4 linked regions of the Homo sapiens genome follow. The protein of the gene in region 2 interacts with the protein of the main gene of each other region in a pairwise test. Each region holds a gene or a part of one and is shown on either strand. Other genes may lie near its edges.

Region 1 (3,500 bases), on a different chromosome or scaffold from region 2:
TTTTTTGAAACAGCGTCTTGCTGCTCTGTCACCCAGGCTGGAGTGCAGTGGCACAATCTCGGCTCACTGCAATCTCCGCCTCCCTGGCCCAAGCCATCCTCCCACCTCAGCCTCCCTAATAGCTGATACTACAAGTGTGCACTGCCACGCCCAGCTAATTTTTGTATTTTTTGTAGAGACGGGATTTCACCATATTACCCAGGTCTCGAATTCCTGATCCCTTTGATGAGAGATCTGACACATCCCTGTGGTGCTCCCTCTGGGCCAGGCACTGCTCCAAGGGTTTCATATACTTTCATTCATCTGTGCAACAGCCCTGTAGGTAGGCCCTGCAGTCACACCATCTGACAGAGGAGGAAACAGGAGTAGAAGAACTGAGTGGTCCAGGGCTTCAAGGCTCAGAGGGCTCCGGTTGCCCCCAGCCCTCGTTCCGTCCCCTGCTCCACCCAGTGCTGCTTGCCATGTCGGCATCAGGCCTGATCTGAAAGCTTCCGGAGCATCTTACAGACGTCCACCTTGCCACCATTCAGGACTGATAAGTTCTCTTGGATTTGCGTTGGACCTTTTTTTTTTTTTTAAGATGGAGTTTCACTGTTGTTGCCCAGGCTAGAGTACAATGGCATGACCTCCACCTCCTGGGTTCAAGGGATTCTCCTGCCTCAGCCTCCCAAGTAGCTGGGATTACAGGCGCCTGTCACCACGTGGTGCCCAGCTAATTTTTATATTTTTAGTAGAGGCAGGGTTTCACCATGTTGGCCAGGCTGGTCTCGAACTCTTGACCTCAGGTGATCCCGCCTTGGTTTCCCAAAGTGCTGGGATTACAGGCATGAGCCACCACACCCGGCCCAGGATTTCTTTATATATTCTGGATATCATCCCTTATGAAGTATATAGTTTGCAGATATTTGCTCCCATTGTTTGGGTTGTCTTTTCACTTGATATAGTGTCCTTTGATGCACAAACATTTTAAATTTTGATGCAGTGCAATTTATTGTTTCTTTATTGCCTATGTTTTTGTCATCAGGTTTAAGAAACCACCTCATCCATAGTTATGAGGATTTTCACCTATGTTTTCTTCTAAGAGTTCTGTAGTTTTAGCTGTTAAATTTAGGTCTTTGATCCATTTTGAGTTAATTTTTGTATATGTTATTAGGTGAGGGTCCACTTTATTCTTTTGCATGTGGATTTCCAGTTTTCCCAGCACCATTTGTTTAAAAGACTGCTTTTTCTCCACTGAATGGTCTTGGCACTTTTGTCCAAAATCAATTGGCAATATATGTAAGGGTTTATTTCTGAGCTCTCTCTCCTGTTCCATTGGTGTATATGTGCCAGTACCACACTGTTCTGATTATTATAGCTTTGTGATAAGTTTTAAACTCAGGAAGTGGTAGTTATTCACCATTTGCTCCTCTTTTTCAAGTTTGTTTTGTTTCTGGATCCTTTGCAATTTCATATGAATTTTAGGATCGGCTTGTCCAATTCTGCATAAAAGACAGTTTGAATTTTGATATGGATTGCATAGAATGTGTAGATCTGTTTGGGGCACATTGTCATCTTTACAATATTAAGCCTTCTGGCTGGGTGTGGTGGCTGACGCCTGTAATCCCAGTACTTTGGGAGGCTGAGGCGGGCATATCACTTGAGGTCAGGAGTTCAAGACCAGCCTGGCCAACGTGGTGAAACCCCGTCTCTACTAAAAATAAAAAACAAATTAGTCGGAGGTGGTGCACACCTGTAATCCCAGCTACACGAGAGGGTGAGGCAGGAGAATCGCTTGAACCTGGGAGGAGGAGGTTGCAGTGAGCTGAGATCATGCCACTGCACTCCAGCCTGGGTAACAGAGGGAGACTCCATCTTAAACAACAACAATAACAGAAGAAAAAAACAGTATTAAGTCTTCCAATTCATGAATGAAGGATCTGTCCATTTATTTACGTCTTTAATTTCTTTCAACAGTATTTTGTACTGTTCAAGTCTTGCACATTCTTGGTTAAATAAGTATTATTTTTGATGCTTCTCTAAGGAATTGTTTTTCTTTTCCTTTTTTTTTTGAGACAGAGTCTTGCTCTGTCACCCAGGCTGGAGTGCAATGGCACAATCTTGGCTCACTGCAACCTCTGCCTCCCGGGTTCAAGCAATTCTTCTGCTCAGCCTCCCAAGTAGCTGGGATCACAGGTGCCTGCCACCACACCCAGCTAATTTTTTTTTTTGAGATGGAGTCTTGCTCTGTTGCCCAGGCTGGAGTGAAGTGGCCCAATCTTGGCTCACTGCAAGCTCCACCTCCCGGGTTCACACCATTCTTCTGCCTCAGCCTCCTGAGTCGCTGGGAATACAGGTGCCTGCCACCACGCCCAGCTAATTTTTTGTATTTTTAGTAGAGATGGGGTTTCACCATGTAGCCAGGATGGTCTCGAACTCTTGACCTCAGGTGATCTGCCTGCCTCGGCCTCCCAAAGTGCTGGGATTACAGATGTGAGCCACTGTGCCCGGCTGGAGTTGTTTTCCTTAGTTACATTTTCAGGCTGTTTGTTGCTAGTATATAGAAATACAAGCTGGGCACCGTGGCTCACGCCTGTAATCCCAGCACTTTGGGAGGCCAAGGCGGGTGGATCACCTGTGGTCAGGAGTTCGAGACCAGCCTGGCCAACATGGTGAAATCCAGCCTCTATTAAAAATACAAAAATTAGTCTGGCATGGTGGCAGGTGCCTGTAATCCCATCTACTCAGGAGGCTGAGGCAAGAGAATTGCTTGAACCTGGGAGGCGGAGGTTGCAGTGAGCTGAGATCGCGCCATTGCACTCCAGCTTGGGGAACAAGAGTGAGACTTCATCTCAAAAAAAAAAAAAAAGAAATACAGTGGATTTTTTTATGTTAATCCTGTATTGATTGCTGAATTGGTTTATTAGTGCTAATAGGATTTTTTATGCACTATTTAGGATTTTCGATATATACAATCATATATATTCAATATATACAATTAATATATATGTGAATAGAGATAATTGTAGTCTTTGTTTCTAGTTTGCATGGCATTTATTTCTTTTTCTTGCTTAACTGCCTTAGCTAGAACTTCAAGTACAATGTTGAATAAAAGTGACTAGAGCGGGCCGGGGGTGGTGGCTCACACCTGTGTTCCCAGCACTTTGGGAGGTGGAAGTGGGCAGATCACTTGAGATCAGCAGTTTGAGACCAGCCTGGCCAACACGGCGAAACCCCATCTCTACTAAAAATACAAAAATTAGCTGGGTGAGGTGATGTGCACCTGTAGTCCCAGCTACTTGAGAGGGTGAGACATGAGAATTGCTTGAACCTGGGGGGCGGAGGTTGCAGTGAGCCAAGATCATGCCACTCCACTCCAGCCTGGACGACAGAGCAAGAACCCTGTCTTTAAAAAAAAAAAAAAAAAAAGTGGCTAGAACAAACATCTTTATCTTGTTCCTGATCTTAGGTGGAAAACTTTTTTGTTCCTGATATTAGGTGGAAAACTTTTAGTCTTTCAC
Region 2 (3,500 bases):
GCTCAGTGTAAAACTTCCTAGGAGGTGAAGGCAATAAACTCCTCCCTGTTTTGCACCATAGACTGGCCTACAATAACTATTCTGAACAGAATGCACTGCCCAGAAGAAAAGGCAGTGAAGAAGGGAATTAGGGAATTCAGATGACTCTGTTTTTCAGAATTATCTAGATGATTGAGGCAAATAGAGATTTTCTTTTATTGAAATGCTGCCATCATTTTCTGCTCTAAGTGTAGATGTTGCACGAGTGACATCTGTGGTATATCCTTCTTCCAGATAGAAGTATAAATTTATAATTTAGTGGGGAGAGGAATTTTCTTTTAATCACCAAACTACCAGCTGTATAGAAAATTTTTTTGAAATCACCAAACTAGCAGTTGTGTATCTTAGCTCCTAAAGCCACATTCACAAGAATCATAAGCATCTCATTTAGAAAATCTAATGTCCACCGGACCCAACATCATCTTTCCACATGTTGGAGTTTAGAACATGCAGTATTGGACACCAAAAGAACAGAAATAACTTGAAATTATACAATTACCAAATAACCTCCATCTCTTTGATAAAAATGACTTTTTACCCAAAGTGAGATGTGAACAAGTTCTCCTCTTTAACCCAGGCAGATTTTCAGCTTAGCTCAAAGCAAACTATAATTAAATAAAACAATAAAAATTTTAACTCAATGAATATCCTAGGAGTTAATCTGCTGTGGTAATCGATAGTGACATAAAAACAAGATGCATAGAGCTGAAAAAGGCATCTGTCCACCTGAGTGAATTCCTGTAGTAGGCAGCATTTCAAGATTTAGTTTGATTCAAACCTGCTGATAAAACAAATGCTTATATGCAAGAAAAACTAGCAGCAAGATATGAATAAATCTCCCCATTATGTTAAAAACTAATCAGCATGACACATTTATATTTAGGTATTTCTTCTGCAGAGGATTGCCAGAAATTTCTTAATGAGAGTGATAATTTGGTGATCCACCTATGTACCTTTTGATGTCTCATCACAGAGATTAGTGCTTCCTCTGATAATACATTTGCTTGATCCTGCTAATAAGAACTCACCTTTCTTTTTAACGAAATCAATTTGTGTTAATTTACATAGGGAAAAACGTTCCTTGAGAGGGAGGAGAGGGGTGTTTACCACCCACAGGAGCAGTTCCATCCCTGGTTACCCACCAGTATCCCTGCCAGATGTTAGACTGGAATTAGAATGAAAATTTAAAAAAAAACGAAATAATAATCCACTAAATGGCCTTCTAATTAGAGAAATTTGAAGATTTCTATCAAATATAAAAAGTGAGAAATAGAAATCATTCCCTTTAATTTATGACAAATTAAAATTATTGAAGTAAAATGTTTCTAAGTCAGTTTCTGGATAGTTCTTGAATGAGTCAAGAAAAAACTCAAACACTAAATTTCTAAGCTAATTTGTTCATTATTCCTTTCTGTTTATTATTTATTATATGAGTGCAAATTGCAAATGTATTAGAAAAGACAATATAGCCTTCACATTCACAAGTGTGCCTTCTGGCCTTTGAAATCTTTTAACATAAGATCAATATAACATATTTGTTCCCCATAAAAATCTCTTATGTACAGGGAATAAGGTCCTCCATAGCTACACAGAGACACCCATTCTTGCAGTCTGGCATTCTTAACACCTTTAGCTTCAAAGGCAGTCGGTTTCAATTTCAAGCTAAAATTGTGAATATACAATTAAGTGCGCAACTTGGGCCTTCAGACCAAATAATTAATGCTCCTCAAATTAAATAATGAGTGGCTGAAAAGCCTAATGTGTAACAACAGAGTAAGTGACTTCAACGGCTTCCTGAACCTTCATTTTGAGGGTGTTCTCATCTCACCCACCTCTGGGCTAGGTATCCTCTGTTAATTGCTAACAATTTCCTACCAAAATAGTGCAATCAGGACTGCCCATCACAGCAAATTACTCCAATTAATGCCCTTTCCTCTTCTGTGAACCAAAAATATCTCTCTCCTGTCTCTCATCTCTATCCCAGGTATAAATTGACTAATAAATTTTACAGAGTTTTAGTCAAAATTATGAATTTTAATTTCCAGCAACATTATTCCTTTAGTCTTTCTATTCCCCAAAACATTCTTAAATTTTGGTATCAAATGTTCATTTCTGTCCTAGAGATTGTGGTTCCCATGGCTACAGATTTTTGTATAGTGGTAGTATGAGTGGAATAAGATCTGAGACTTTTCCTGGTGATATCCACCATTCTCTTGTGAACTCATTGCAGAATAAACAGCCTCTTTCACTTTCATTGTAAGTAGTTCTTTAGGTTGGCAAAGCAGGCACCAGAATCTGAATTTGAATGAAATCTGTACTTTCTTTTGTTGGCCTATTTTTTGCCAAGACAGCCTGCCTATTGTATATTTAGGAATCAAATATTCATTTTTTCTGTTTGTAAAGCCAGAAATATTTCAGTTAAAAAGAATATAATTTTATATTATTTTAATAATTCTTTTTAAGTAAAGTAGGAAAATTTCTGCCACCTGAGATGTTACTGTTTTTATTTATATGAAAATTCCATTTTTTTCTTTATGACTCTTTTCCCATACCATTATGATATGTTCAGCATTAGTATTTTCCATTTTACCACTAAACAAATAAGCCAGGACTAATAACAATAGCAGTTTGAGAGTTTTTATTTTGGCATTTTGGTTTTAATTAGGAAAGAAAACATGGATGCTATTAAAACTAGTTGTAGTTAAAAATGTTTTGAATGAGGCTACTAACGCTATCTTAGTCATCTCAAAGAGAAAGAGAAGAAGTAAAATTTTAAATACCTTTTTGGCATTTTTAACCAATTCATATGAACAAAAACATATATTCTATTAAAGCAAAATAAAGAATAGTTTAAAACACTAGTCTTCTTGCATGTGAATATTTTCCCCCTAACAGACAAGATAGAATCCATTTCTGGACACTCTAAAAGAAAGTAATGTTAATTGAGAGAGCTGTCTCCAAATGGAACTCAACCTGACCAGAATCCCATCCGCAGGCAAGAGATGGGCTGTGGGGCCGACCATAAGTTTTATTCTGAGACGAGATGCTTTATGGCTGCTGGCTGCATTATGGCATCTAGCAGTCCCCACTGGTTTGTGGGAACAAAACACATGGATTGATATTCAATATGAGTTTGGTAAGTTGGAGAAAAATGGAGACGATACGGAGTAGTCTAAAGGCACAACAAATAAGAAGGTGCCAGAGGTAGGGAAGGGTCTGAGAGGGGTAGTTGCAGAAGCATTTAGCTTTCATAGATGAGGGGAGAGTTTTTTGGTTTTATGAAGATTAGGCAGCCCTCCTGAGGAAAGTATTAAGGATAGAATGAGACACTTGTCTTGGTGGTTTGGTGAAGTCGTGTCGAAGGCAAAAGGATGAACTACACATATTTTGAGCATGATTTAGTAATATTGTTTGCAAGTTGAGAAACAGAAATTCAGCCATTCTCCTGACTGATGGTAGGT
Region 3 (3,380 bases), on a different chromosome or scaffold from region 2:
ACTTGAACCTGGAAGGCAGAGGTTGCAGTGAGCCAAGACTGCGCCACTGCACTCCAACCTGGGCGAAAGAGCGAGACTCAAGTCTCAAAAAAAAAAAAAAAAAAAAAAAAAAAAAAAAAAGAAGAGTGGAGAGTGCACGCTAGAGTCCAATTAGGTGCATTCATCCAGTAAGCCTCCTAGGTAACTGCTCTAGGTGCAGGGAATAATGCAGGCAGCAGGACAGGAATGGGCGCTGTCAGCTCCCCCTAGAGCTCAGTGTACATACACCCTTCCTTTCCTGGGAGGGCCGTTCCAGGCCCCCAGGAGACAGGACACGCTGAGCTGGGTGGGGCTGGGGCCAACGTGGGCAGGCCTGTGAGACTCTGCACTTGGGAGCTGGGGGCTGTGGTCTGCGGCATACCCATGTCTGGAAGCAGCCTCTGTCCCTGCAGGGGCTCTAGACCCCAGCCACGGATGGCTAAGGAGGAGCTAGGCCAGGGCACGCATAGACAACCCCCGACATTCACGGGTGTTCAGCCCTACCCTGGGTGTGGAGGTCGTGGCCCAGCTGCCTGACCCAGAGCTCGGCTCTTCCACTTGCGCTTCCCACCCCCAGCTTCACAAGGTCACCTCCAGGAACTCAGTCTTTTTGTGTGTTGTTTTCTGGAGAAGGAAGGTGATCTCCCCACTCCCGGGGCTGTCTGCCTTCCCTGTAGCTGGCAGGTGCCAGAGGCCCCCGCCTGTGACATCCGGCTTTCCTCCCACCACACTCGCCTGAGAGCCAGCATCTGTCTTCTTGGGCCTGCTCAAGCTCTCCTCCGTGTCAGCCCCTCCTCCATGCCCTTCTCCCTCAGACCCCACCCCCCATCCCTTCACCGCCCACTGGGGCTCATCGCTCAGGCTGTAGGAGGGAAATGGAAGGATGTCCTCCCGGGCTCTGGCTGGCGCTGGGTGTCCGAGTCAGCGGAGCGCCCCCAGCAGTCTCCCCGAGGCAGAGTCATGGGGGTGCTGGCGCCTGGACGCTGTCTCATCCCGGGGAGCCGCTTTCCCACCGGCTCCCTGGGCTCCAGCCGCCCCACGCGAGCCCCCGGCTGGTTCTGGGGCCAGGACCGCCCCTCTCCAAGGCAGACTTCCCTTCATTCCACGACAAAGACGCGCAGCCCCGTTTCCCTGGGGCTCTAGCCCGTGAGATCGCCGGGTGTATCCCGACTCCCGCCGGCACGTGCGCTCCCCCAGGGCAGGGCCTGCCTGTCCCCTTCCGCGGGTCGCCAGCAGCCAGCACAGGCCGCAAACGGCGGTCCGCAGAGCGGACCAACGGAGCCGACCCTCGCAGGCTTGGAGCCGGACGCGGCGGGGCAGAGCCCCCGAGGCTGCAGCTCGCCGGAACCCGCGGGAGGGCAGCCGGGCTGGGCGGAGCGCACAGCGCCACGGACCGACCGCGCAGGCTCTGCCGGCCACTTCCGGTGTCGCGCGGCGGCTCCCGGCAGGAGGCAGAGGGCACACCGCCAGCCCCAGGCCAGGCTGCGAGGGCCGCGGACCCGAGCCGGGAAGGACCTTGGGCGGACGAGCCGCGCGTCCCGCAGCCATGGAGCAGGACGACCCGGTCGAGGCGCTGACGGAGCTGCGCGAGCGGCGGCTGGGCGCGCTGGAGCTGCTGCAGGCGGCGGCCGGCTCGGGCTTGGCAGCCTACGCGGTGTGGGCGCTGCTGCTCCAGCCCGGCTTCCGGCGCGTGCCGCTGCGGCTGCAGGTGCGGGGCGGGGCCAGGCCGGGCAGGGGAGCTCGGCTGCCGCTCAGGGTCTCAAGGTCTGGGCGTGGCCGGGGTGAGCTCCGCCCCGCCGTGTGGTAGTTCGGGCCGGGCTGCGGGCGGGGCGGGAGCGGCCAGTGGACTCTCGCCGCCACCCGGTCCAGGTGCCCTACGTCGGCGCGAGCGCGCGGCAGGTGGAGCACGTGTTGTCGCTGCTGCGAGGACGCCCCGGAAAAACGGTGGATCTGGGCTCTGGCGACGGCAGGATCGTAAGTGCCTGCGTCTGGGTCTTCGCCGCCCCACACCGCCCACCTGCTGGCGGGCGCCCCTGCCCACATCCTGGTTCCCACACTCTCGGTGCCCACAGGTGCTGGCGGCCCACAGGTGCGGCCTCCGCCCGGCCGTGGGCTACGAGCTGAACCCCTGGCTGGTGGCGCTGGCGCGGCTGCACGCCTGGAGGGCCGGCTGTGCCGGCAGCGTCTGCTATCGCCGCAAGGATCTCTGGAAGGTAACCTGGGGATCCCTGGCCACCCGCTGACAGCCCAAGGTGCGGCTGACACCTGCGAGGGCTGGGGGCCGGGACTCGGAAGCTGCGATGACCCGGTGCCCACCAGGCCTCTCCCCGGCCGGGGCGACTTCTCTTCCGGCAGGTGAGCCTGAGGGACTGCCGCAACGTGTCTGTGTTCCTGGCCCCTAGCGTGGTAGGTGCGGGGTTGCCAGCCCCGCTGGGAAGCCCCAGCCACACCCCAGGGTGTTTGCTGCTCTGAGGCCTGGGCCTGCCTGGTGGGTGCTAGGCTTGGGGCTAGGGGGGTGAGCGCGGCTGTTTTCTACCGGCCCCGCCCCCGCCCCCTCTACTCTGCTGTTCTCTCCCTCAGCTCCCGCTGCTGGAGGACAAGCTGCGGACAGAGCTGCCTGCTGGGGCCCGCGTGGTGTCTGGGCGCTTCCCACTCCCCACCTGGCAGCCTGTGACCGCGGTTGGCGAGGGCCTGGACCGAGTATGGGCTTATGATGTTCCTGAGGGTGGGCAGGCTGGGGAGGCCGCCTCCTCGCGGATACCCATCCAGGCTGCCCCCGGACCTAGTTCTGCCCCCATCCCGGGGGGCCTTATTTCTCAGGCCAGCTGAGTATTAGACACGATAAAGACTCTGTGGGTTCTATCCTGACTCATGTTTTATGGGGGGCTGGGTGGGAGGGTTCTGTGCTGGCTGAGGAGCTCTGCTCTGCTCTGCTCCTTGGGAGACGGCCTAGTGGCTGCCGGTCCTTGGATGCTGGGGCTTGGCTGGAGGCACAGCCCCCACTTTCCAGGGGTCCCCTGCACCTGCCAGCTTCCTCAGCCTCAGGATTTCGTGCTTGTACCTGCTCAGAGGAACCATGCTTAAGTGACTTGCCCAGCTGTGGACAGGTCTGCTTTTAGCGCCTGAGGCAGCCATCATCCTTCATTCCAACCAGACCAGGGCCCTGGGGTCACACCCAGCTCCCTCTGCCCACCTGCCCAGGTGCTGGTCCACGTACTCCTGTAGCTCAGAAAGTTGCTCTTCAGCCATCGTGGCCCGGACCAGCAGCTGTGCCCGCTCCCGTTCCAGCTCTGCCTGGCATGGGGATGTAAGCCATGAGCTGGGGCATGGCGTGAGGATGGGCCTGGGCCAGCCCTTGCCTC
Region 4 (3,500 bases), on a different chromosome or scaffold from region 2:
CCTGCGGCCTTCCGCAGTGTTTGTGTCCCTGGGTACTTGAGATTAGGGAGTGGTGATGACTCTTAACGAGCATGCTGCCTTCAAGCATCTGTTTAACAAAGCACATCTTGCACCACCCTTAATCCATTCAACCCCTGAGTGGACACAGCATATGTTTCAGAGAGCACAGGGTTGGGGGTAAGGTCACAGATCAACAGGATCCCAAGGCAGAAGAATTTTTCTTAGTACAGAACAAAATGAAAAGTCTCCCACGTCTACTTGTTTCTACACAGACACAGCAACCATCCGATTTCTCAATCTTTTCCCCACCTTTCCCCCCTTTCTATTCCACAAAGCCGCCATTGTCATCCTGGCCCGTTCTCAATGAGCTGTTGAGTACACCTCCCAGACGGGGTGGTGGCCGGGCAGAGGGGCTCCTCACTTCCCAGTAGGGGCGGCCGGGCAGAGGTGCCCCTCACCTCCCGGACGGGGCGGCTGGCTGGGCGGGGGGCTGGCCCCCCCACCTCCCTCCCGGACAGGGCGGCTGGCTGGGCAGAGGGGCTCCTCACTTTCCAGTAGGGGCGGCCGGGCAGAGGCGCCCCTCACCTCCCGGACGGGGCGGCTGGCCGGGCGGGGGGCTGACTCCCCCACCTCCCTCCCGGACGGGGCGGCTGGCTGGGTGGGGGGCTGACCCCCCCACCTCCCTCTTGGACGGGGCGGCTGGCCGGGCAGAGGGGCTCCTCACTTACCAGTAGGGGCGGCCGGGCAGAGGCGCCCCTCACCTCCCAGACGGGGCGGCTGGCCGGGTGGGGGGCTGACTCCCCCACCTCCCTCCCGGACGGGGCGGCTGGCCGGGCAGAGGGGCTCCTCACTTACCAGTAGGGGCGGCCGGGCAGAGGCGCCCCTCACCTCCCGGATGGGGCGGCTGGCCGGGCAGGGGGCTGACCCCCCCACCTCCCTCCCGGACGGGGCGGCTGGCTGGGCAGAGGGGCTCCTCACTTCCCAGTAGGGGCGGCCGGGCAGAGGCGCCCCTCACCTCCCGGACGGGGAGGCTGGCCGGGCGGGGGCTGACCCCCCCACCTCCCTCCCGGACGGGGCGGCTGGTCGGGCGGGGGCTGATCCCCCCCACCTCCCTCCCGGACGGGGCGGCTGGCCGGGCGGGGGGCTGATCCCCCCACCTCCCTTCCCGGACGGGGCGGCTGGCCGGGCGGTGGGCTGACCCCCCGACCTCCCTCCCGGACGGGGCGGCTGGCCGGGCGGGGGGCTGACCTCCCCACCTCCCTCCCGGACGGGGCGGCTGGCCGGGCGGGGGGCTGACCCCCCCACCTCCTTCCCGGACAGGGCGGCTGGCCGGGCAGAGGGGCTCCTCACTTCCCAGTAGGGGCGGCCGGGCAGAGGCGCCCCTCACCTCCCGGACGGGGCGGCTGGCCGGGCGGGGGGCTGACCCCCCCACCTCCTTCCCGGACGGGGCGGCTGGCCGGGCAGAGGTGCTCCTCACATCCCAGTAGGGGTGGCCGGGCAGAGGCGCCCCTCACCTCCAGGAGAGGGCGGCTGGCTGGGCGGGGGGCTGACCCCCCCACCTCCCTTCCGGACAGGGCGGCTGGCCGGGCGGGGGGCTGACCCCCACCTCCCTCCTGGATGGGGTGGCTGCCGGGCGGAGACGCTCCTCACTTCCCAGACGGTGTAGCTGCCGGGCGGAGGGGCTCCTCACTTCTCAGACGGGGTGGTTGCCAGGCAGAGGGTCTCCTCACTTCTCAGACGGGGCGGCCGGGCAGAGATGCTCCTCACATCCCAGACGGGGCAGCAGGGCAGAGGCACTCCCCACATCTCAGACGATGGGCGGCCGGGCAGAGACGCTCCTCACTTCCTAGATGGGATGGCGGCCGGGCAGAGACGCTCCTCACTTTCCAGACTGGGCAGCCAGGCAGAGAGGCTCCTCACTTCCCAGACGGGGTGGCAGCCGGGCAGAGGCTGCAATCTCGGCACTTTGGGGGGCCAAGGCAGGCAGCTGGGAGGTGGAGGTTGTATCGAGCCGAGATCACGCCACTGCACTCCAGCCTGGGCACCATTGAGCACTGAGTGAACGTGACTCCGTCTGCCATCCCGGCACCTCGGGAGGCTGAGGCTGGCGGATCACTCGCGGTTAGGAGCTGGAGACCAGCCCGGCCAACACAGCGAAACCCCGTCTCCACCAAAAAAATACGAAAACCAGTCAGGCGTGGCGGCGCGCGCCTGCAATCACAGGCACTCGGCAGGCTGAGGCAGGAGAATCAGGCAGGGAGGTTGCAGTGAGCCGAGATGGCAGCAGTACAGTCCAGCTTCGGCTCGGCATCAGAGGGAGACCGTGGAAAGAGAGGGAGAGGGAGACCGTGGGGAGAGGGAGAGGGAAAGGGAGAGGGAGAGCTTGTCTAAATTTTCAATGGTATCAGTACAATGTTCAGAATTTCCTTTACTATCTTTTTAATGTCAGTAGGATTACAGTGGTGTCCTTATTTTTATTTTTAATATCAATAAATTGTGTTCTCCCTTTCTTGATTACCCTTGCCAGGAGTCTATCAATTTTTTTATTCTTTTAAAAGAACTAACTTAGGACTCTGTTGGTTTTCTCTTTTGTACCTTTGTTTTTTAGGTCATTAATTTTTTAATTAGTTCTTTCCTTCTACTTTATTTGGGCTTAATTCTCCCACCACACACACACACACAGATACACATTTTGAGATGGAAACCTAGGTCATTAATTTTTCAATCTTCTTTTATACATTCATAGCTATTCATTTCTTTTAAGTGAAATTATTCTATTCAATTCACAACTTTAATTGCGTTTCATAAGTTTTGATGTGTTATATTTTCATTATCAATGAACTAAAAATACTTTTTAGGCCAGGCATGGTGGCTCACACCTATAGACCCAACACTGGGAGGTGGAGGCAGGAGGATCACTTGAGCCCAGGAGTTCGAGACCAGCCTAGGCAACATAGTGAGTCCCCATCTCTACAAAAAATTTTTTAAAAAAGCCGAGCATGGTAGCACACACCTGTGGTCACAGCTACTCAGGAGGCTGAGGCAAGAGGATCACTTAAGCCTTGGAGGGTCAGTACTGCAGTGAGCCGTGATCACACCACTGCACTCCAGCCTAGATGACACAGCAAGATACTGTCTCAAAAGAAAATAAATAAAAATTTTAAAATACTGTTTAATTTTGCGTTTTAAAATACTGTTTAAAATACTGTTTAATTGTGATTTCTTTTTTGACCTGTAGGTATTTAGAAGACTAGTGCTTAATTTCAAACATTTTGAGATTTGGTCATTTACCATTTTTTATTTCTAGCTTAATTCCACCGTGGCCAGAAAACATAGTCTACATGATTTCAGTCTTGAAAGTTGCTGAGACTTGCTCTATGGCAAAGCATAAGACCAATTTAACCATTCTGTGTGGACTTGAAAAGATGTCTATGGGAAGTCATAGTGTGCAATAAATAATCCGTATGTGTAAATTAGCTCATTTGTTAATTGTTTTGTTG

What was found. Proteins that work in one complex are often made in the same cells at the same time.
Region 1: the proteins of CTNNA3 (region 2) and ZGPAT interact in binary tests that used the Homo sapiens proteins (3 or more experiments, as listed by UniProt).
Region 3: the proteins of CTNNA3 (region 2) and ANTKMT interact in binary tests that used the Homo sapiens proteins (3 or more experiments, as listed by UniProt).
Region 4: the proteins of CTNNA3 (region 2) and GINS3 interact in binary tests that used the Homo sapiens proteins (3 or more experiments, as listed by UniProt).

The regions. Positions count from the first base shown.
Region 1 is NC_000020.11:63,711,039-63,714,538, forward strand, and holds part of ZGPAT (zinc finger CCCH-type with G patch domain-containing protein), read left to right. Parts: intron 1-3,500. UniProt on the Homo sapiens protein: Transcription repressor that specifically binds the 5'-GGAG[GA]A[GA]A-3' consensus sequence. Represses transcription by recruiting the chromatin multiprotein complex NuRD to target promoters.
Region 2 is NC_000010.11:65,915,196-65,918,695, reverse strand, and holds part of CTNNA3 (catenin alpha-3), read left to right. Parts: 3' UTR 1-3,500. UniProt on the Homo sapiens protein: May be involved in formation of stretch-resistant cell-cell adhesion complexes.
Region 3 is NC_000016.10:719,711-723,090, forward strand, and holds ANTKMT (adenine nucleotide translocase lysine N-methyltransferase), read left to right. Parts: upstream 1-1,435; 5' UTR 1,436-1,564; coding exon 1,565-1,726; intron 1,727-1,887; coding exon 1,888-1,992; intron 1,993-2,090; coding exon 2,091-2,231; intron 2,232-2,373; coding exon 2,374-2,424; intron 2,425-2,598; coding exon 2,599-2,847; 3' UTR 2,848-2,880; downstream 2,881-3,380. Other genes in the region: CCDC78 (coiled-coil domain-containing protein 78), read right to left, coding at 2,968-3,079, 3,212-3,380.
Region 4 is NC_000016.10:58,395,471-58,398,970, forward strand, and holds part of GINS3 (DNA replication complex GINS protein PSF3), read left to right. Parts: intron 1-3,500. UniProt on the Homo sapiens protein: Required for correct functioning of the GINS complex, a complex that plays an essential role in the initiation of DNA replication, and progression of DNA replication forks.